Linked DNA regions of Homo sapiens: region 2 is linked to region 1. Evidence: fine-mapped expression QTL. Tissue or cell type: blood mononuclear cells. Region 1 holds a variant in brackets; the other region holds the start of a gene. All regions are shown on one strand. Distances are between the middles of the regions.

Region 1 (10,287 bases):
TTCTATCCCCAGCCCTCTCTGCAGTGACAGGAACACAGTAAGTGCTCTACAGCTGTTTTTTGAACAAAACTGATACTGTATATCAAAACGTATTTTTCTTTCTTATTTACTCTCAATTTGCAAATAAAAATTGTATATATTTATCATGTACAACACATTTTAAAGTGTGTATACCTTGTGGAATAACTAAATCAGAGTAATTAACATGCATTACCTCACATACTTAGCTCTCTTTTCGCAGTGAGAACAATTAAAATGTACTCTCAGCAATTTTCAAGAATGCAGTACATTGTTATTAAATGGGGTCGCCATGTTGTGCAATAGATCTCTTGAACTCATTCCACCTATCTCACCAAAATTTTGTATCCTTTAACAAACATCTTCCCAGCATCCCTCCCCCATCCAGTCCCTGGTGCTCCTCTGAGTTTGACTTTTTAAGATTCCACATATGAGTGAGATCTTGAGGTATTGTCTTTTGTGCCTGGCTTATTTCAGTTAACATAATGTCCTCCAGGTTTACCCATATAGTTGGAAAATGACGGGGTTCCCTTATTTTTTTAAGGCTGAATACCACATTTTCTTTATCCATTCATTCCATTGATGGACACTTAGATTGATTCCTTATCTTGGCCATTGTGAATAGCGCTTCAGTGAACACAGGAGTAGAGGTATCTCTTGGGCATACTTAGACATACTGATATCATTTCCCATATCCACAAGTGAGATTGCTGGATCACATGGTCATTCTATTTTTAATTTTTTGAGGAGCCACCGACTGTTTTCCATAATGGTTGCACTAATTTACATTTCCACCAACAGTGTGCAAGGGTTCCCTTTTCTCCACATCCTGGCCAACACTTATTATTTTTCATCTTGATAAAACCCTCCTAACACATGTGAGGTGACATCTCATTGTGGTCAAACCACATTTTCTCAGGAGGGATGCAGTATAAATCATTGTTCTGGTGCCTAAAACTTGCCATATGTGAGCAAGTATTTAGCAAGTACTTTAAAAAATGCTGATAGCATTGTTTCCTAAACGTCAAAGTCAGAGACCTCCAACAAACATTTTAACTTTAATTTTTATCAACATATGAACATAGTTTAATACAATTTTAAAAGTGAATGGATTTTACAACAACACAAAACCAAAGTAGTCTTGTCACCCGCCCCACTCACCCTCATTCCCACTCCTATGGCAAACATTTTAACTCTTTTAGTTCCTTCTTCTGATGTTTATGTCCATACTGTGAAGCAACAAGTTTACGTTGCTATTTCCTAATTTTTTCAGTTTTAGATCTCAATTAACTTCTCACCATTAAATATAAATTTTGACTCCTTTTATTTAGACTTCCTCTCCACACTCTCCCAATATAGTTATCTCTACAGTTTAATTTTTGGTTAAATCAAAGTTCGGTTTTTACAATATCATGATTATATAAACAACCAAGTGCAATAGTGTACTTTGTTTTTTTTTTCTTTCATGATCACTATTTTGTTTCCCTGGGAGTTTCTAGTTGCCTTAATTTTCATTTCCTATTGTGTAATGTACCTGTCATTTACTCATCCTCAACTTCTTAGCCTGAGTATACATTTCTCAAAACGTTCCAATACATCAGGTAATCTATGTGACTCCTGTTTTTCTTGGTGATTATCTTCCTAGAGATTTCTGTTTAAATCTATCAGGTATTCTACTCAGTTCTCCCTTTACCATAGATTTCTTTTCCATATCTTTTCCAGAACTTTTCTCTTCCAGTATGGACTGGTGTTTCCTTAGGCCAGCTATAGGGCTGTCATCAACCTAGGGTTCTTCTCCATCAACCCTGGAGTTCTCGTTTTTGATGGATATCCTGTTCCTGTGTCCTACATCTTCCTCATTCCTGGTATGTTTTCTTGCTTGATGACACACAACCTCCACCAGCTTCCTGAAAATAAAATCAATAAAAAGTAGTGGTGTTTTAATTAATATTTTGAGACTGGCATGTCTGAAAATGTGTTTATCTTACTTTCACACTTTTACTGAAAGTAAAATGTTTTTACATTGTGGGTTGGGGGCTAAAAATGCTAGGTTGGAAATCACTTGGAAGGCATCACTCTTCTGGCTTCTAGTCTTGCTCTTGAAAACCCCAGTACCATTCTGATTCCTGCTTGATATGGTTTGGCTGTGTCCCCACCCAAATGTCATCTTGAATTATAGCTCCCATAATCCCCACGTGTTGTGGGAGGTGATTGAATCATGATGGCAGGATTTCCTGTGCTGTTTTTGTGATAGTGAATAAGTCTCATGAGATCCGACAGTTATATAAAGGGAAGTTGCCCCACACATGCTCTCTTGCCTGCCGCCATGTAAGATGTGCCTTTGCTCCTCCTTTGCCTTCCACCATGATTATAAGGCCTCCCCAGCCATGTGGAACTGTGAGTCCATTAAACCTCTTTTCTTTAATAAATTACCCAGTCTTGGGTATGTCTTTATTAACAGTGTAAGAATGGACTAGGGAGGCTGAGGCGGGTGGATCACGAGGTCAGGAGATCGAGACCATCCTGGCTAACACAGTGAAACCCCATCTCTAATAAAAATACAAAAAATTAGCCAGGGGGAGTGGTGGGCACCTGTAGTGCCAGCTGCTAGGGAGGCTGAGGCAGGAGAATGGTGTGAAACTGGGAGGTGGAGCTTGCAGTGAGCCGAGATTGTGCCACTGCACTCCAGCCTGGGTGACAGAGCGAGACTCCGTCTCAAAAAAAAAAAAGAAAAAAGAGAATGGGCTAATACACTGCTCCTTTATGTGGCTCTGGTTGTCTCTCCAGAAGATTTAGAGTTTTCTCACTTTTCCCAGTATTTTGAAATCCCAAGGTGATCTGTTGTCATAATACTACAGTAGTTGGTGGGACTCTTGTAATAGATTCATCTGCCCAATGCACAGCAAGTCAATATGCTGAGACACCAGGGAGCAGCAGAGAACAAATTAAATAATTATAGGGCAGCCTAATGAGATGGGAGGAAACCGCACATCCACCTCCCTGAGGAGTTTGGGGCTAGGGATGTTAAGGGGTTTGGAGTGGACTGAGGTGTGGGGATCATTGATTGATTGATGAATTCAGGGTAAAGTCATGGGAAGGGGAGATGAAGAAACATTCTCATGCTGATATAGTTCTTCTATAAGGGTTTTCACACTGGTTGATGTCAGCTGTTCTGCTAGAATTCAGAATCTGAAAAACATTGTAAGCAATTCTTAAGCAAAAGCTCTATGATTCTAGCATCAGAGATCCTCTTTATCTTCCAACTTTTATGAGAAAGTTTTAAAATTTCATGTTATCATTTTTATGTGTTCCTCTTAATATGGCACCTTGATCTTGTTTTATGGATGCAACATCTCCCTTTTTCACTAAAAAATAAATTACAAATTTTATAAAGGTATCTTGTTCTCTATATTACCTCTCATTCCTTTATTATGTTTTTTTCTTTCTTTCGTAAAGACTTTCCTCAAATATCTGCTACTCCTGAGTCCATTCATATTTAAAGGGCAAATGGCTAGACTAAAAAGATGATTGGAAGCCAGGTGTGGTGGCTCATGCCTATAATCCCAGCACTTTGGGAGGCAAAGGTGGGAGGATTGCTGGAGCCCAGGAGTTCGAGAAAAGCCTAGGTAACAAAGCAAGACCCTGTCTCTACAAAAAAAATTTAAAAATTAGCTGGGCATGATGGCACATGCCTGTAGATCCAGCTACTTGGGAGGCTGAGGTGGGAGGATGGCTTGAGCCTGGGAAGTCAAAGTGGCAGTGAGCCATGATAACCCCACTGCACTCCAGCCTGGGTGAAACCACAAGACCCTGTCTCAAAATTTAAAAATAAACAAACAAACAAATAAATTAGGTTATTGGAAACTCTGCATGCAAAGGTTTCTCTTTCAGTAGGACTTCCCAGAAGGAAACTGGCTATTTTGTTGAGGAACTCTTAAACATTATTATCTGCAAATCCTATCTCTGGGATTGATGAGTTTCCCCAGAGAAGAATTCTCTAATTTCCTGAGCCTGGCCTAGTTCACAGCCAAGTGAGGAAAGGGGATGCCACAGGGCTTGATTTTTATTACACTCCACTGTTTTCACCTAGACCTGGGTCCTGAGCCTGGACTCCCTTTCCTTTGTCTTCTCTAGAAAGTGACAACAACTCCCCCCATCCACTTGTCTTCTTCTGGATGAGGGAGGGGTGGTCCCAGTCCTGAGTGAGGTAAGCAAGGGAATCTCTGACTTCTTCTTTTATAGATTTTCAATTAATCCTCTCATTTTTAGCCCACTGGGATATTCCCCATGAGCAATGCCCTATGCTTCCACTTCCCAAGACTCCCTGGGTTCTGCGTTGTGAATCTGCCCAGCAGCTCCTGCCCCAGCCCTTGAAGTGCTAGCTTTCTGCATCCTGTG[G/A]TCTGTTCACTTACTCACTGCTAGATCTGACTTCCTCTTGCAGTCATTCAGTTGACCTCTCTCTGCTGTGACTCCTTTCATGTTCTCTTCGCTTTTGTGCGCCAATGTCTTTTTGTCCCTTTCCTGTCACTTTCATGGAGGGTTAGGAGGGAATAGAGACAAATGGCTGTGTGCAATTCATCATGCTTACATAAATTTCCATAAAGCCACAGCTCCTGATGTTGTTAACCGTCCCACCTGTGTGTTTCTTATCCACCCTCACCCCGCACTGGGGACAATCCCATTGTCTGCTAACTGCTTACCACATTTCCAGTGAAATGACCTTGCCTTTCATTTGGATTTGGGGAGGGGCAGAGTGTTAGGATCTGCATAACAAGATCCCCCACTTTCAATGTAGAATCAAGAATGGGAAATAAAGCAACCCTTGCTAGTTTCCAAAGTATTAGATACCGCTCCTGGGTCTCAGTAACTCTGAATATGCCAGACTTTTATCAAGGAGTAAAACAGTCACCCACGCCTTTGTGAAAGCTCGCAAGTTTGAAATTGTGCCGAATGAGGAAAAGCTTCCACACCAGACAGTTCCAGGTGCCCCTCTGAAAGAGTTATCCCTTTGCCTCAAAAAGAAAACAAGACACAACAAAAAACAAACAAAAAAACCCCCCAAGAAACAATGACAACAACAACAACAAAACCCTCTGTGGTCACAATGGAGAAAAGGTAGGACTAGGGGGCAGCGGGGCTTGAGAACCCTGCCCTCAAATGTTTATATAAAAGGAAGAGCTGCCTGGCACGGTGGTAACTGAGCTGTGTCCCTTCCAGGCTGAGCTCTGTCTTCAGCTGGACAATTTGAGCCAGCTGTGCCTGTTTCTTCCCCAGGGCTGAGAAGGCTTTTATTCACAGGCAGTTTCCTGGGATTGCCATTAGTGAAGACAGGGATCAAGGACTCACAGACAATGCCCTGCAAAGACAGCCACTCCCTTGGCAATTGGGGCAGAGTTTGCATCTTGGAGCTGGAACCTTGGCGGCCCCTGAGCACAGTGTTCTGGAGGAGTCTGTGCTGAAGGGCAGCCTGGAAGCCTGTGGGACATTGGGAACGGTACCAGCTGGGGCCTGGGCTTGCCCCTGGGTACAGAATGTTTTATTCAGTGGGCAAAGCAGTGCCAGGGTGGATGAATAAAGCCTTCAGATTCTGCATGGGGGTTTGTTTAACTCTCCCCCTTCTCATCCTCTGAACACAGCCAGAGGCATTTGGAACATGGCCCATATGATCATATCATTGGTGACAATGGAATCCAGGCCACCCAAAATCAATGAGTCTCTAACAAGGCACAACTGGCTGCTGGGACTTGTCTCCAGCATTGCAACATTGCCAGCTATTCTTTGTCTAAGTGCACTCATGTTAATGTGTAAGCCATTTCCTTCCCAGTGAGAAGGTTCTTTGTGAGATTGCTCTGTATGCTCACACTTGGAGACTGAAAGTTGGACTCGTAGGTACTGAGCGTCTTGTTGTGGAGACCAGATGCAATGCCTGGGCCTCCTGCTCCAGCTCCCATCCAGCCCTGGGTCAAAGCCTGCAGGCGAAGGACAGGACAGCAGAGTGAGCTCCAGGATGTGGAGGAAGGAAGATGAGGTGTGGTGGGGAAAGGGTAAGTGGGTGTGGAGGGTAGAAAAGTGTCCCCGAAAAGATAGCTCCAAGTCCTTACCCCGGTCCTTGCAAATGTGACCTTATTTGGAAATGAGATTTTTGCAGATATGATCTAGTTAAAGGTCTCAAGATGAGATCATCCTGGATTTAGGGTGGGACCTAAGTCCATTGACTAGTAGATATTTTTGCAAGAGAAAGGAGAAGATTTGAGACACAGAGAGACACAGAGGGAAGAAAGCCGTGTGAACTTGGACTCAGAGATGGGAGTGATGCTGTCACAGCTAAGAAATGCCAGGAAGCACCACAAGTTGGAAGAGGCAAGGGAGGGATCCCCCCCAGAACCTTCAGAGAGATCGTGGCCCTGCCAACACATTGATTTTGGACTTTTGGTCTCCAAAACTGTGAGAGAGGAAGTTTCTCTTGTTTGTTTTTTGTTGTTGGTGGTGGTGGTTTTTTGTTTTTTGTTTTAGATGGAGTCTCGCTCTGTCGCCCAGGCTGGAGTGCAGTGGTGCGATCTCGGCTCACCGCAAGCTCCGCCTCCCGGGTTCACCATTCTCCTGCCTCAGCCTTCCATGGAGCTGGGACTACAGGTGCCCGCCAACACACTCGGCTTTTTTTTTTTTTTTTTTTTTTTTTGTATTTTTAGTAGAGACGTGGTTTCACCATGTTAGTTCTCTTGTTTTAAGCTGCCACATTTGTGGTACTTTTGTTATGGCAGCCCTAAGGAGCTAATTCACAGGAGAGATGGGGAAGGGAAGAGGCAAGAAGATAGAAAGATGAGGAGGTGGGGACAGGGACAGCCATGCAGGCTGAGGCAGCAGGGGTGGAACAGCTCCCCTCCCTGTCATAGTCGCTTCATAACAAAATATCCTGGACTGGTGGCTTAAACAACAGAAATTAATTTTCTCAGAGTTCTGGAGGCTGGAAGTGAAAGATGAGGGTGCCAGCATGGTCAGTTTCTGGTGAGGGCTCTCTTTCTGACTGGTAAACGGCTGCCTTCTGGCTGTGTCCTCGTAGGAGAACAGAAGGCAAAGGAAAGCTCTCTAGCTTCTCTTCCACCACGAGCTTCAAATCTAAACCTGATTATCTCCCAAACACCATCACTTTGGGGGTTAGGGTGTCAACATATGAGTTTAGGGAGGATGCAATTCAGTTGATAGCAGGCCTTCATGCATGGGTGTCCCAGCATAGGTCTGGCAGTTTAGAGGCCAGAACTACACGGAATCTTGCTATGCAAAATGGGCAAAAACACCATTGATTGAAGGATAATTTAACCCGGAGCAGAGAAGTTACATTGAGAATCGAAAAATGACACCCTTGCCTTGGGGTTAACGAGGCTGAAAATAAAGACTAAACCAGCAGTAGTCTGGATGAAGGTGAAGGCAGGTGGGGCATCATTCATCAGACCTGGGAAGTGGGGGCGCAGGGCTTATCTGTTTGGGCCTCATCACTGCTCTCCCTATCATCTCCTGTCAGAAATAATTCCCTGACTGGTGTCCCTTCCGTTTCGGGATGAATTGTCCTCCAGCTGCTCCTGATTCCTGCGTTAAAGTCCTGGTGTGATGGCTCACATCTGTCATCCCTGCACTTTGAGAGGTGAGAGGATTGCTTGAGGCCAGGGGTTCAAGACCAGCCTGGGCAACACAGTGAGACCCCATGTCCACAATAAAAGAAATTAGCCAGGCATGGTGGTGGATGCCTGTAGTCCCAGCTACTCAGGAGGCTGAGGCAGGAGGATTGCTCGAGCCCAGGAGTTGGAGGCTACAATGAGCTGTGATTGTGCCACCGCATTCCAGGCTGGGTGACAGAGTGAGACTCTGTCTCAAAACAAAAACAAAAACAAAGACAAAAACAAATCCTAACCCTTTAGTACTTCAGAATAAGACTGTATTTGGAGATAAGGCCTTTAAAGAGGCAATTATGTTAATGAGGTCATTAGGGTGGGTCCTGATCCAATATGATGGATGTCCTTGTAAGAAAAGGGAACTAGGACGCAGACATGTGCAGAGGAAAGACCATGCAAAGACACAGGGAGAAGACGGCCCTCTGCCAGTCAAGGAGACAGGCATCAGAAAAAAATCAATCCTGCCAACACCTTGATCTCGGCAAAGCTCCAGGCATGTGAGAAAATAAGTTCTGCGGCAGCCACCCAGGCTGTGGTAGTTTGTTATGGCAACCATCACCCACTAAGACACCGTCTCCAAGACCCTCCTCTATAGACAGACACCTGATGCCCAGGCCACCCCTCAGATGCCAGGGGAAGCTGGCTGGGAAGGGCATGGGCTTTGGAGCCACCAGCTACACCCTGGAATCTCTGTTCATGGCCTTCTAACTGTGGGACCTTGAGCAAGTTACTCCATCTCTTTAGTCTTGGAGATCCATAAAGCTGGAGGTAATGAACTCTCCCCAGAGCTGTGCAAATTAAATGAACTAACAAGTAAAAAGATAGATTTATTTATTTATTTTAGACAGGGCCTCCCTCTGTCACCCAGGCTGGAGTGAGTGCAGTGTGCGATCACAGCTCACTGCAGCCTCGACTTCCCAGGCTCAACTGATCTCAGCCTCTGAAGGAGCTGGGATTACAGGTGTGTGCCACCATGCCCAGCTAATTTTTTCATCTTTTGTATGTTGCCCAGGCTGATCTCAAACTTCTGGGCTTAAGAGATCCTCCTGCCTTGGCCTCCTGAAGTGCTGGGATTATAAGCATGAGTCACCTCGCCCAGCCATGTAAAAAGATTTAATATGCCTGAGGCCCAAGGACTCTAATACGTTCTCCAATTTTACCTACTCTAGGGGACATTTGCTGTGTTTTGCAGCCACACTGGGCAGCCTGTCTCTTTGGAGGAAATGCCAAGATCTGCGGGGGTCTGGCCCTGTTTCCCACTGTGTGCAGATGAATCTTCTAACCACCTGTCTTCTGGAAGTGGGGACAGGAAGTGGAGCCAGTTCTGCCAGGTCCTCCCATTCAGATGGTGGGCTCCTGAAGAAGTGACATAGAGAACTCATGGAGGTGACAGTGGAGACAGGCTCCCAGCGGAGGGCAGCAAGGACCAATGATGGTGTGAGTGTCCACTGAGAGTGCCATTGGTGGCGTCCCAGGCAGCAGGTTCTGTAGGATGACCTCACTGTCATCTATGCTTGTTTCCCTGCTTGCAGTCAATCTCCTTGTCCTCTGCCTTGTCCTCTTGGGGCCTGTTCTTGGCTGGCAATCATATTGGAAAGTTATCTAACAAATTATTTCACACTAAAGTGAGAAAGATTTAGATAAGTAGTCATTTTCCTAAAGGCACTTGCATTTTAAGAAGGGAAAGGAAACAGGTAAGGCTAAGCATTTCATTTAACTGGCAGTGGAAAACGTAATCATTTTTAAAAATAATTTATAATTTTATAATTTTTAATTTTTTTTTTATAGAGACAAGGTCTCTCTATATTGCCCAGGCTTGTCAACTCCTGGCCTCAAGTGATCCTCCTGCTTTCGCAAATCCCAAAGTGCTGGGATTACAGGTGTGAGCCACCATTGTCCGGCAGGGAAAGTTCATTTTTAAGGCTGACTATGTATGTACCAAGGGCCTATTATTCCCCTGGGATGCTGGTGTTCAAGGCATTGTCTAGTCTGGCATAGGTGAGGCACATTCATTTGAGTGGCCACCTCCCATGTTGCCTACTCGGCTGGCACGGTGGAGAGCTTAGCTGTCTTTTGAGTCTGTGACTTGTTTAGACTTTACTGGTTTAATCAGAAGGCTCTGAATTTCATACTTAAATTCCCATTCAGGTGTCTGGCTGACCAACATTGGCAGGTAAAGGTAACATTTTGGTCAGATGAGGAAGGGGGTGCCGGGAGGCAACAAAGAGGTATTTTCCCCAGTGTCTTACTCCTTTGTTCAGTTTTGATGACATGTAGCACGACTAAGAAAAGAACTTCTAGGCCAGTCCAGTGGTGCAGGGTGTGGGTAGGGTAGAGAACCGTACAAGATGGAGATCCCAAAGAGAGCCTGTGCCCAAATGCAAATTCCTGGTCAATTATTTCAGCCAGTTCACAGTGACTGCCTGCTTCTCCCTGCGTTATTTTCACTGGGACCTGAATCAACTCTTGATTCTTGAATCTAGAGAAGGGAAAGGAATCCAGGACAGAAGGTGGGCAAAAAAGGCAGGAGCGCGAGGTGGCTGGGAAACGGGCGTTCTCCATTCATTTCTCACTTCCAAGTCTGACCTAAGCAGGTCTAGCA
Region 2 (10,150 bases), 95 kb after region 1:
GTGGGGTGTGTGTAGTGTGTTGTGTGTGGTGTGTGTGGTGTGTGTAGTGTGTGGGGTGGTGGGTATGTGTGTGGGGTATGTGGTGTGTGTGGTGTGTGTAGTGTGTGGGGTGGTGGGTATGTGTGTGGGGTATGTGGTGTGTGTAGTGTGTGTGTGTAGTGTGGTGTGTGTGTGGTGTGTTTGTGCGGTGTGGTGTGTTTGGTGTAGTGTGTTGTATGTGTGGGGTGTGTGCGTGTGGTGTGTTTGGTGTAGTGTGTGTTGTGGTATGTGTGGTGTGTGGGGTCTGTGTGGTGTGTTTGTGTGGTGTGGGGCGTGTTTGGTGCGTGTGGTGAGTTTGGTGTGTGTTGTGGTATGTGTGTGGGGTGTGTGTGGTGTTTGTGTGTGGTGTGTTTGTAGTGTGTGTGGGCTGTGTGTGTGGTGTGGTGTGTTTGGTGTGTGGGGTGTGTGTGGCGTTTGTGTGTAGTGTGGTGTGTGTGGTGTGCTGTGTGTGGTGTGTTTGTGTGTGGTGTGTTTGTGTGTGTGGTGTGTATAGTGTGGTGTGTGTAGTGTGTTTGTGTGTGTGGTGCGGTGTGTATGCGGTGGGCGTGTGCAGAAACAACAAGCCCCTGCTCCGCATGGGGTGTGGAGCAGATGCTGCGGAAGCCGCCTGGCCTGTGGGCGTTGGCAGTGGGGACCAGCTGACCCAGAGACTCCGCGCTTCCCCGCGCTTCCCCCACCCCCGCCCCACTGCGGCGCTCCGGGGCTCACTGAGTTCCGAATCCACCTCCTGGGATCCGCGCCCTGGCTACCAGGCCCTGAGCCTTCTGCGGGCCAGCGAGCTCCCGCCAGGTTCTGCCAACAGGGGGCCCCAGAGGGCGGCGTGGTGGCCGCAGATCGCAGGACAGGAGCCTGTTCCCGTCAGCAGAGCCCCAATAACCCCCCGGACTCCCAACGGTGGCGCGGTCATGCCCAGTTTTCTAGCTTGCTTCATGCACTCCCAGGACCTGCCTGCCCACATCCCGCCCGGGCCGGCTGGTCCATCTCGGAGATTTGAGTCCAGCTCTCTGGGAGGCCCCAGGGCCAGGCAAGTGCAGAGGTCCGGTTCCACTCCCCAGGGCCCCTTCTCCAGCTTCCAGGACCTCGGTTCTCAGAACCCTCATGACTTCTCTTTGCTCTTTAGAGACCTTCACTGCTTCTATCAGTCACCATATCTGAATCTTGGCTTGCCACTCAATCCTCCAATATCGACCAACAACAGGAGATTCTCTCTATCTGAGGGGGGAGGTGTGTTTCCCTGACTAGACTCTAAATACAAATCCTCCACTTCTCCATCTGTCTCTCCAGTGATCTCAGAGGCATGGTCTTAACACCGCGCACAGTTCCTTGCAAGTTGAAGAGTAGACCCAAATGATCAGTTCTAAAATTCTATTCTTATTGAAGATTACTGGTGGAAATATCAATGCAAACAAAATGAAAAAGTTCAACAATGATTAATACTGCATTTCAACAGAAGAATCAAATCATCTTGACAAAACTTCAATGGGCAAAATTTGCCTTGGGGAATTTTATGCAGGGGAATCCTTGGGTCTGATGTGTGGTGGGCTTTGGATGTGTTGTGTAGCTCAGTGTCCCTTCCTGCTACTCCTAGTCATCTCCAGAAACTCAGACCACCCATCTACTAAAGGCAGGTGGATGAGCAAGGGGGCCTCGGAGGCATTCCGGATCACACTGAACCTGAGCCCCACCGCCTGACCCACTCAGTGTCACTGTTAACAGAAACTCGCTGCCATCTGGCCTCAGGCCTGCCTCCTTCCTATAGAACTTGACACTGGAAGCACCAGGCGAGCTGGACCTTCTGCTGCTACTGCACTCCCATGATGCAGCCTGAGAATGAAGCCCACCAGAGTGACAGAGAGCAGACCTGAGTGGTGAGCTGGTGACACAGGGTGTGGGTGGTGTCCCTTGAGCTTCGACACCACGCCACACCTGAAACCAGCCTGACATCCATGATTTTGCTTTTTTGCTTAAACCAGTCTGCGTCATTTTCAACAAAAGAGTTCTACTAGATATGACAAATTTCTCTAGAAGACCTAAGAAGTGAAAGACTTGAAGCTATTCCAGTGGTTCAGGAACTAGGACACTGGTAGGAAACTGGAAAGAAGGCATCAGAGTTAAGGAAATATTTATGAGGTCAACTCTGGAAGTCTTGGTTACTGAGTGAATACAGTGGCTGAGAGGAATGGAAGCATCCAACCAAATAAAAAAAGATGGTGCTGAGATTTGGGTTATGAGGTCAATGACTGAAGCAATGCGATTAACTGAGTTAGGAGTCTCAAATATAGGATGAGTGCAGAGTTGAGGATGAAGAATTCTGCTTTGGACACAATGAGTGTGAGGTGCCCAAGGATAACCCAACGGGAAGCAGTCACACCAAAGCAACAGGGTGTGCACCTGAAACTCAGAAGGGTGATTGGGCTATGGTGAAGATTCCTGATCACCCATAAATGAATTCATTAAAAGCATGAGAGTGAGTGGAGGGGCCCCTAGAATATGGTGGGTGCATGAGACTAACCCTAGATTGGGGATAGCTCCCTGGGAAATCCAAGGGACAAGGTGAGGAGGAGGAGGCGGAGCCCACCAAGGAAACTAGAAAGAGACCGCTGGAGAGGTCCGAGGACAGCAAGGAGCACAGCCTTCAAGTCTGGGAGCCAACTATCCAAGAAGAGAGTGGTTTGCTATGGATGCCGTGGGCCACCACGTCCCATCTAGGAAAGCAAGTTGAGGTCTCTCTTGAATACATTGGGATTGATTACCCAGACTTTAAAGAATCTATGTCCCCTACTTCCCTTCATTCACTCTGCTCTTTACCTTCTCCTCTTCCCTGGTCACCAGCACCTCTGCTAAAGGGTGGAGAAAGGAACTTCTGATCAGTTACAGAAAAGCTTTGGGGTTACGTGGTGCAAGCTGCTCTGCCTCTGTTTGTGAAGAAATTAGACTATGGCCAGCCATGTGAGTGGCATCACTTTGGTTTCTGGAGCAATAGTTAGTAGCAACTTTTAGAGGTGGTCATTTCGGTTCCCTTCTGGAAAGTGATTCGTGTTTAAGAAAAATAGATGCAACGTTGCTAAGTACACCTAACATTTAAACAGTCTCCAGCAGATAAATGCTGATACTGACACTTCTCACCAGAAAAAGAGAAATACCCATCATGAGGAAGAGAAATGACTTTTGTTCAGTTATGCTCCCGGGTCCCCTTTCACTGGAGGGATATCTCAGCTTTCTGAGCCCCTGGTTACTGCAATCCTCGGTTCCAGAACCCAGCAATTCCTATCATCACAATTGTTTCAAGTCTTATCCAAGCCCTGTATATTTCAGATCATCCTTAATTTCTTGTTCTGTACCCAGAGGAGATCAGGAAAACCTTTAAGTCTCTATGTGAGGCAAATACATCCTCCTCACTGCCCCAGCCCCATGTGATTGATGAAGCAACTGAGGAAGAGAAGTAGGGTGCTTCTGGCACTGGAGGAGCGCAGTGCTGAGAAACTCCGGGCTCCATTCGGAAATAGCACTGATTTCTTAGTGTACTTTTTTTTGGTGTTAATATAGAAAACATCAAAAACACAGTTAAAAGAATGAAGCATGTCTACATACGTGTGGCCAGAAAGACTGACCAGAAGCTGGTAGCAGTGAGGGATGACAGTGCTTGCCCCTGGGTTGAATAGTGGAAGAGTTAGGGGGGAAACAGTCTGCTCTTTGAGACCCTTTCAATTTCATGTGATGGATTTACAGAGACAGATGAATTAAACATTATATAAAAAAGGAATAAAACCACTGGTAGGATCTGTATTCCAGGAAGAAAAAAGCATATTACATAATAGGTCAATGCACAGAAATAAAAAAAGGAATTTAACTAGAGCCTATGCTAATCATAAATCCCTTCCCTGTTCCAGAGTCCTGTTGTCTCTGGGGTCTTGGCCTGTCTTATCTAGGCCATGGAGTGGTGGGGGTGGGATGCTGCTAGTTCCTAGGCAGGAAATAGTGGCCAGTTACCCTTGTGGTGTCATTTCTGGGTCCTGGAAAGGAGACCACTGCTGACCCCTGACTCACCAACCAACAATTATTGATGGAAATCCCACCGGCCTCCCCGGACAAAGGCAGCCCAGACCTGGACTCATTCACATGTAAAGGAAGTGGCCAGAAGTGGCTGCTGTTGGCAGGGGTGAGGGACGGGAGAGCGCGCTAAGTGGCCTGTGTCTGTGGGGGAGGGAGAGGGTGGAGCAGCACAAGCCGGCCTGAGGTTAGGAGCCTGCGGTATCTCCAGGAAAGCAGAGGCGGCTGTGGGGGGCGCCGGGGCTGAAGAGCCAAGTGTGGAGACTGCTCCATCTTGCCCATCTCCAGAAACTCAGACCACCCATCCATTAAAGGCAGGTGGATGAGCAAGGGGGCCTCGCAGGCATTCCAGATCACACTGAACCTGTGCCCCACTGCCTGACCCATTCAGCATCCCTATTAACAGACACTCGCTGCCGTCTGGCCCGGACCCGGCTGGCGCTGCGGGTCCTTCCACCCCAGTTAGGAAGGGTCATGGCTCCCGCGGAAGCCCCTGCCAGGGTGAATAAACTCGGCGTGGGGCTGACGGGCTCTGAATTACTCCGTTGCTTACAAGCCGAGTGCCCCTCTGTGCCTCAGTTTCTCCCTCTATAAAACAATACGAATACCGGCCCAGAAGCGTTGTTGGGCAGATTAAACGAGAAAATCCACTGGAAGTGTTTAACAAACGACACACAATACGGGCTTCATACCTGCCAGCCGATGTCCCCTGCAGCCTTTATTCCCTACCCAATTCCCCTTAGCCTGCTATGTGGAGATACAGGAGGCTTGCACCCGCCGCGGTCCCGGTGTATTTTAACGGGCTCCCGGGGAAGCGGTGTGGAAAATGGATTAGGGAGGGAGGAGGCCAGAGCCTCGGAACCCGGGGAGAGGTCTGCAGGCATCCAGTTGGGAGCTGGAAGGGCGGGACAGGGCCCTTGGCAGGGGGATCCAGGAAATATTTTGGAGAAATTCTCTCTAGGACTTGGTAACAGGTTGAGAGCGGCCACTTGGCCGGGGGCGCCGGCTTCGGAGGCGGGAGGGAGGTGGAGGAAGGGAAGGCAGCTGCAGGGCCGACCTGCGGGGTGGGCGTGAGGCCGGGGGATTGGGGCCGCAGGGGTTCGGCCTGGAGGAGCGGCGTGGGGGCGCCGGGGCCCTGATTCCATCCTGGGCGGGTCGGCCCCGCAGCCGCTGCGCTCGGAACCCCCTAGGCGCCCCGCAGTACCCGGCGTCCTTCCTGCCTCCTCCTCGCCCCTGTCCTCCGTCCGAGCCCCAGTCCCGCCGACCCTGCCGGCGCCTCCGCCCTCCCGCCCTCCCGCCCTCGGTTTCCCACGACCTCGGCGCGACGCGCGCGGGATCCAGTGGAGACTGCTTTCCCATAGGCCGCCATCCAGGGCGGGGAAGGGAGCGGACCCTCCCGGCTCCAGGTGCCTGGGCCCCCGGCGGCCTGCGGAGGCCTCGCCCCACGCCACCCGCCCACTGGCCTCGTCTTCGCGCGGGGGTGAGAGCAAAGGAGGCACTCGGCCCATCGCCAGCCCGGGTCCCCTTCCTGCCCGTCGCTATCCGAGAATTTGCCCCGTGTCCCCCAGGCCGCGGGGGTCCGGAGAACCGAGGGGCGGACCCCGCAGAGGGCTGCGCCGCCCTCCCTTCTCTCCCCGCGGGAAGCAGCCCCCAGGACCGCCCCTCGCTCCCTGCCCGGGAGGGACTGGGCTTCCCCGAGGTGTGCGGCTCCTGGAGAACTCGCTTTCCCGTTTCCAGCCGGCCAAGCCATCAGTTAATCGCTTGCTTTCTCTTTTCTTTACAGAGAAAAGCAGCCTGATTCGGAGGAACGGGTTGCTTGGGGCGGCTCCCAGCTCGAGTTGTGGGCCCCGCCGCGGGTGCCCTTCGGAAACGCGCTGACACCAGGCGAAGCCGCCTCTGCCCGGACGCAGCCCGACACTTGGCCCGCGGGGTTCCCCGGGACGCCTGAGAGTAATGGGCGCGAGGGGGAAAGCCGAACGGCCTCCCTGTGCCCGGCGCAGGCGGTGCCCCCTAGCTGGGTTCGCCGCGGCGGCGCTGCGAGCCCCCGACACTGAGGACTTTTGGTCCAACAGTCCGACGGGGCCCGGTGCGCCGTTCCCTCCGCCCTCTCCCCGCTCCCCGGCCCGCGCGTCTTGGAGGGTGGGTGAATTGTCGGAAGCACTCTACGCCTGGCCAACCCAAACCAGGAACCTCCGCACCAAACAGCCCACGTTGCTGCTGCTCTGGGGTTTTAACGGCCAAGGGAGACTGGAGAAGGGGTGTTCTGCCTTCCCATTCTCTTAGGCCCGTCCACTCCCCATCCCCACAGTTTGGAAGTGGCCTTTTCTGAGGACTCCAGCGCAAAGCATGTTTCTCCTTTTGAGCTGCGGAAGCCTTGCTTGTTCCCGCCATTGGGAGGGCATTCCATCATCTGCAGCTGCCTTCCTCGGTGGGCCTTGTCCCTTAGCGTCCACCTAGGGGACATTCTAAGCTTCTTGAGACCTGCTTGTCCACCCCAACATGTCTCAGCATATGGCTGTGCCCTAAGGGGTCTTTGAGGGCATTTTAGGAGGTGAGCGGCGCCCCTACCTGGGCTCCGCGGGGCCGATTCGGTTTGCCCTTTGCTGGCATGTCAGTGAATTAACTGCTGTCCTTGGGATGACCTGCCCTATGATTTGGCCTCTGGAGCATCCCGGGTGTGTATTTCAGAACTCCTCCCATCTTATCCACCTGCTGAAGGCCTGGCCCCCTGATATGGTTTGGCTCTGTTTCCCCACCCAAATCTCACCTTGAATTTTAATAATCCCCACGTGTCATGGGCGGGACCAGGTGGAGGTAATTGAATCATGGAGGTGGTTTCCTGAACGCTGCTCTCGTGACAGTGAGTTCACAAGATTTTTTTTTTTAACGGAGTATCACTCTGTCACTCAGGCTGGAGTGCAGTGGCGCGATCTTGGTTCACTGCAACCTCTGCCTCCCGGGTTCAAGAGATTCTCCTGCCTCAGCCTCCCGAGTAGCTGGGATTACAGGTGCGCGCCATCACGCCCGGCTAATGTGTATTTTTAGTAGAGAAAGGGTTTCACCATGTTGGTTAGGCTGGTCTGGAACTCCTGACCTTGTGATCTGCCTGCCTCGGCCTCCCAAAGTGCTGGGATTACACGCGTGAGCCACTGTGCCCAGCCGATCTGATGCTTTTATAAAGGGCTTTCCCCGTCCCCCTTCCTCTCTCTCACCACCCTGTGAGAAAGGTGCCTTTCTTCCCCCTTCACGTGAACTGCCTCCATGATTGTAAGCTTCCTGAGGCCTCCCCAGCTATAAGGAACTGTGAGCCAATTAAACTGCTTTATAAATTAACCCAGGTATTTCTCGGGTATTTCTTCATAGCAGCGTGAGAATGGACTGATACACCCCCAATGTGGAGTAGGGGAAGCTGAGGGAGTTAGGAGGTCCCAGCAAGGTGAAGGTGTGATGGGGTCTTGGGACAGTGAGAGTGCTGCCTCAGGCAACAGTGGGCAGGTCATTGAGGCTCCATTGAGCTTGGTGAGCAGGAAGCTGAGAGAGGGAGCTGTCGATTCAGGAGTCAGGGGTGACATGGAAGGAACCTAGGGCTTTGCCAGGCACAGGTGAAGGAAGGCCACTTAGGTACTGGCAGTGGGAAGAGAGGGCAGGGAGTGGTGGACGGAGAGGAAGAGAAAGCTGAACACTGGAGCACAATGCGGGTGCTGGGAGGCAAGCAGAGGGGGCTGGGGGCTTCTCATATGGTGCATCCTGGCATTTATATTTTGAAAAATAATTGTTTTGTTCCCATTAGTGCTTTTATAATAGTTTTAGGAAAGAAGAGAAAATATGAATTAGCTATTATGAGGCTTCTTTTGAAGTTTCTTTCAGTTCAGAAACATATCCCACTTTACAAAAAAATTAAGAAAATTCAAAGTTAAAAAATGTAGGGAGGCCAATAATTTTAGTTGCCAGACATTTTAGTCTGACAAGACAACTCATTGGAGTTTCCTTAGAGACGTATTAGAAATTCAGAGCTGCACACGCATTTTTCCCCCTGCCAGATAAACTGAAACAACATAAAGTGAGTTTTAGTTATTTCTTTCAACGAGACTGCGAGGCCTATTTAGCTAACGAAAAAGATATCTGTAGAAAGAAGCATTCTTGATTCTTATCTACAAGACAGAGCAGCAAAAAACCAAGAATGTCAGATGAGTATTATCTCTGTCCATGGCAGAAAGGTATCATGTTGGTATAATTAAGATTGGTCTTAATGGAAACTTAGGCAATAAATATAAACATCATAGTTTAACCTGCAGCAAAGCAAATAAAATACATGAAATATAATAGAAAAACAATGCAGGCAAAGGCAGGCAGATTGCTTGAGTCCAGAAGTTCGAGACCAGACCTGGGCAACATGGCGAAACCCTGTCTCTAAAAAAAAAAAAAAAAATGCAAAAATTAGCCGGGCAGGGTGGTGCACATCTGTGGTCCCAGCTACTTGGGAGGCTGAGGTGGGAAGATCCCTTGATCCTGGGAGGTCGAGGCTGCAGTGAGCTATGATTGCGCCATTGCACTCCAACCTAGGTGACAGAGTGAGACTCTGTCTTACAAAAAAAGAAAAACAATGCTATGTGTGAATTTTTTTCCAATCTTTTAATAAGGAAAATGTTTTTTTCAAAATAATGGCTTATATGGAGTGTCAACATAAAAACAATATAATTTCAAATTGATAAGTAAAATATAGTCAGCAATCTCACATACATCAAAATTTGGTATATAACACACATTCTGGAGAGGTGTTGCTTTTGGTCTTACTTTTTTTCCATTTTTAAAATTGTAAAACACATACAAAATTTAGCATTTTAATGACTTTTAAGTGTACACTTCAGTGTCATTAAATTCACATTGCTGTGCAACCATCACGACCATCCATCTTCAGGCCACTTTGCATCCTGTGTAACAGAAACTCTACACCCATTAATAACTCCCCTTTCTCCCCTCCCTCCAGCGTCTAGCAACCACCATTCTACTTTGTCTCTATGAATCTGACTAATCTAGGTACTTTATATAAGTGGAATCATACAGTATTTGTCCTTCTGTGTCTGATTTATTTCACTTTGCATACCGTCCTCAAGATTCATCTATGTTGTAGCACGTGTCCGAATTTCCTTTCAAGGCTGAATAATATTCCTGTGTGTGTAATATTTTGCTTATTCATCGATAGGTACTTGGAATGCTTTCTTCGTGTTGTAGCCATTGTGAATAATGCCACTATGAACACAGATGTTCAAATATGCGTGGACATTTTTATAGGAATGTAACAACAACAAAAAGCACACAGTGGGCTCCATCATGAGCTCAGCTGCATACAGAGATGGGGGGCGCTGGAAGTCGTGGTGGGGCAACTGAAGCACCTCTCTGGAAATACTGTGTCCCAGGGGGACAGAAGGTCAGGCAGGTGGGTCCTGCCCAGGGACAAACCTGACAATCACTGGCACATCAGAATTCCTGTGAAACTGCAAAAACAAAAAGGGTGCCTGTGCTGAGCCCTAGACCCCCTGATTCAGTCTCTTGATGAGGACCCTGGACATGTGCATGCTTAAAAGCCTCTCCGGAGGTTCTGACTTGCTACCCTTGGGGCTGGGAACCACACAGCCTGGGACTTGGGAAGGAAGGGCGAATCTGTCTTTCCTCCTAGGGGCAGAGAGTAACTATCAGATGCACTGTTTTCCTAGAGAAACCCTGCAAGACCCTGAGGCAAAATAGCTCTCCTGGGGTGGCCCTTTAGCCAAGCAAAAGTGAGATGTTCTTCCCTCCTGCAACAAATACCAAGTGGAGCCAGCCGTACATGCCACAGTGTACAGGGGCTGTCACCAAGAGGAAAGTGGCTTATGAACCATCCCAGTAAGGCCTCCTAGAAGCACTGGGCAGAGGATGCTTTGCAATCTCTGGTGGAAGATGAAACCAGAAACAAGTCTGTATCCGTGATGATGGAATGAGCAGCAGGCAAGGAGCCTAGAAAGTGATGGGCACTCTTGCTCTTTGAAGGTGTGTGCCTGTCATTGGGGCTGACAGGTTCAGT

What was found. PIP is the estimated chance that this variant, and not a neighbour inherited with it, causes the effect.
Region 2: it holds the start of LINC00092, and the variant in region 1 is fine-mapped to the expression of LINC00092 in blood mononuclear cells (TOPMed, PIP 0.90).

Annotation. Positions count from the first base shown.
Region 1 is chr9:96,112,005-96,122,291 of GRCh38, reverse strand. LOC158434 (a long non-coding RNA gene) reads left to right here and starts at 5,881. Exons shown (of 3, transcript NR_132344.1): 1 at 5,881-6,046; 2 at 7,538-7,657. The variant G/A (reference allele first, on the strand shown) is at 4,417.
Region 2 is chr9:96,017,004-96,027,153 of GRCh38, reverse strand. It overlaps LINC00092 (long intergenic non-protein coding RNA 92), which reads left to right and starts at 5,343. Exons shown (of 2, transcript NR_024129.2): 1 at 5,343-5,569; 2 at 5,873-7,422. ERCC6L2 (ERCC excision repair 6 like 2) reads right to left here. Exons shown (of 19, transcript NM_020207.7): 19 at 8,707-10,150. LOC105376159 (a long non-coding RNA gene) reads left to right here. Exons shown (of 2, transcript NR_188619.1): 2 at 1,160-3,894. RefSeq lists enhancers at 368-891, 890-949, 3,921-4,421, 5,854-5,903 and a silencer at 6,114-6,163.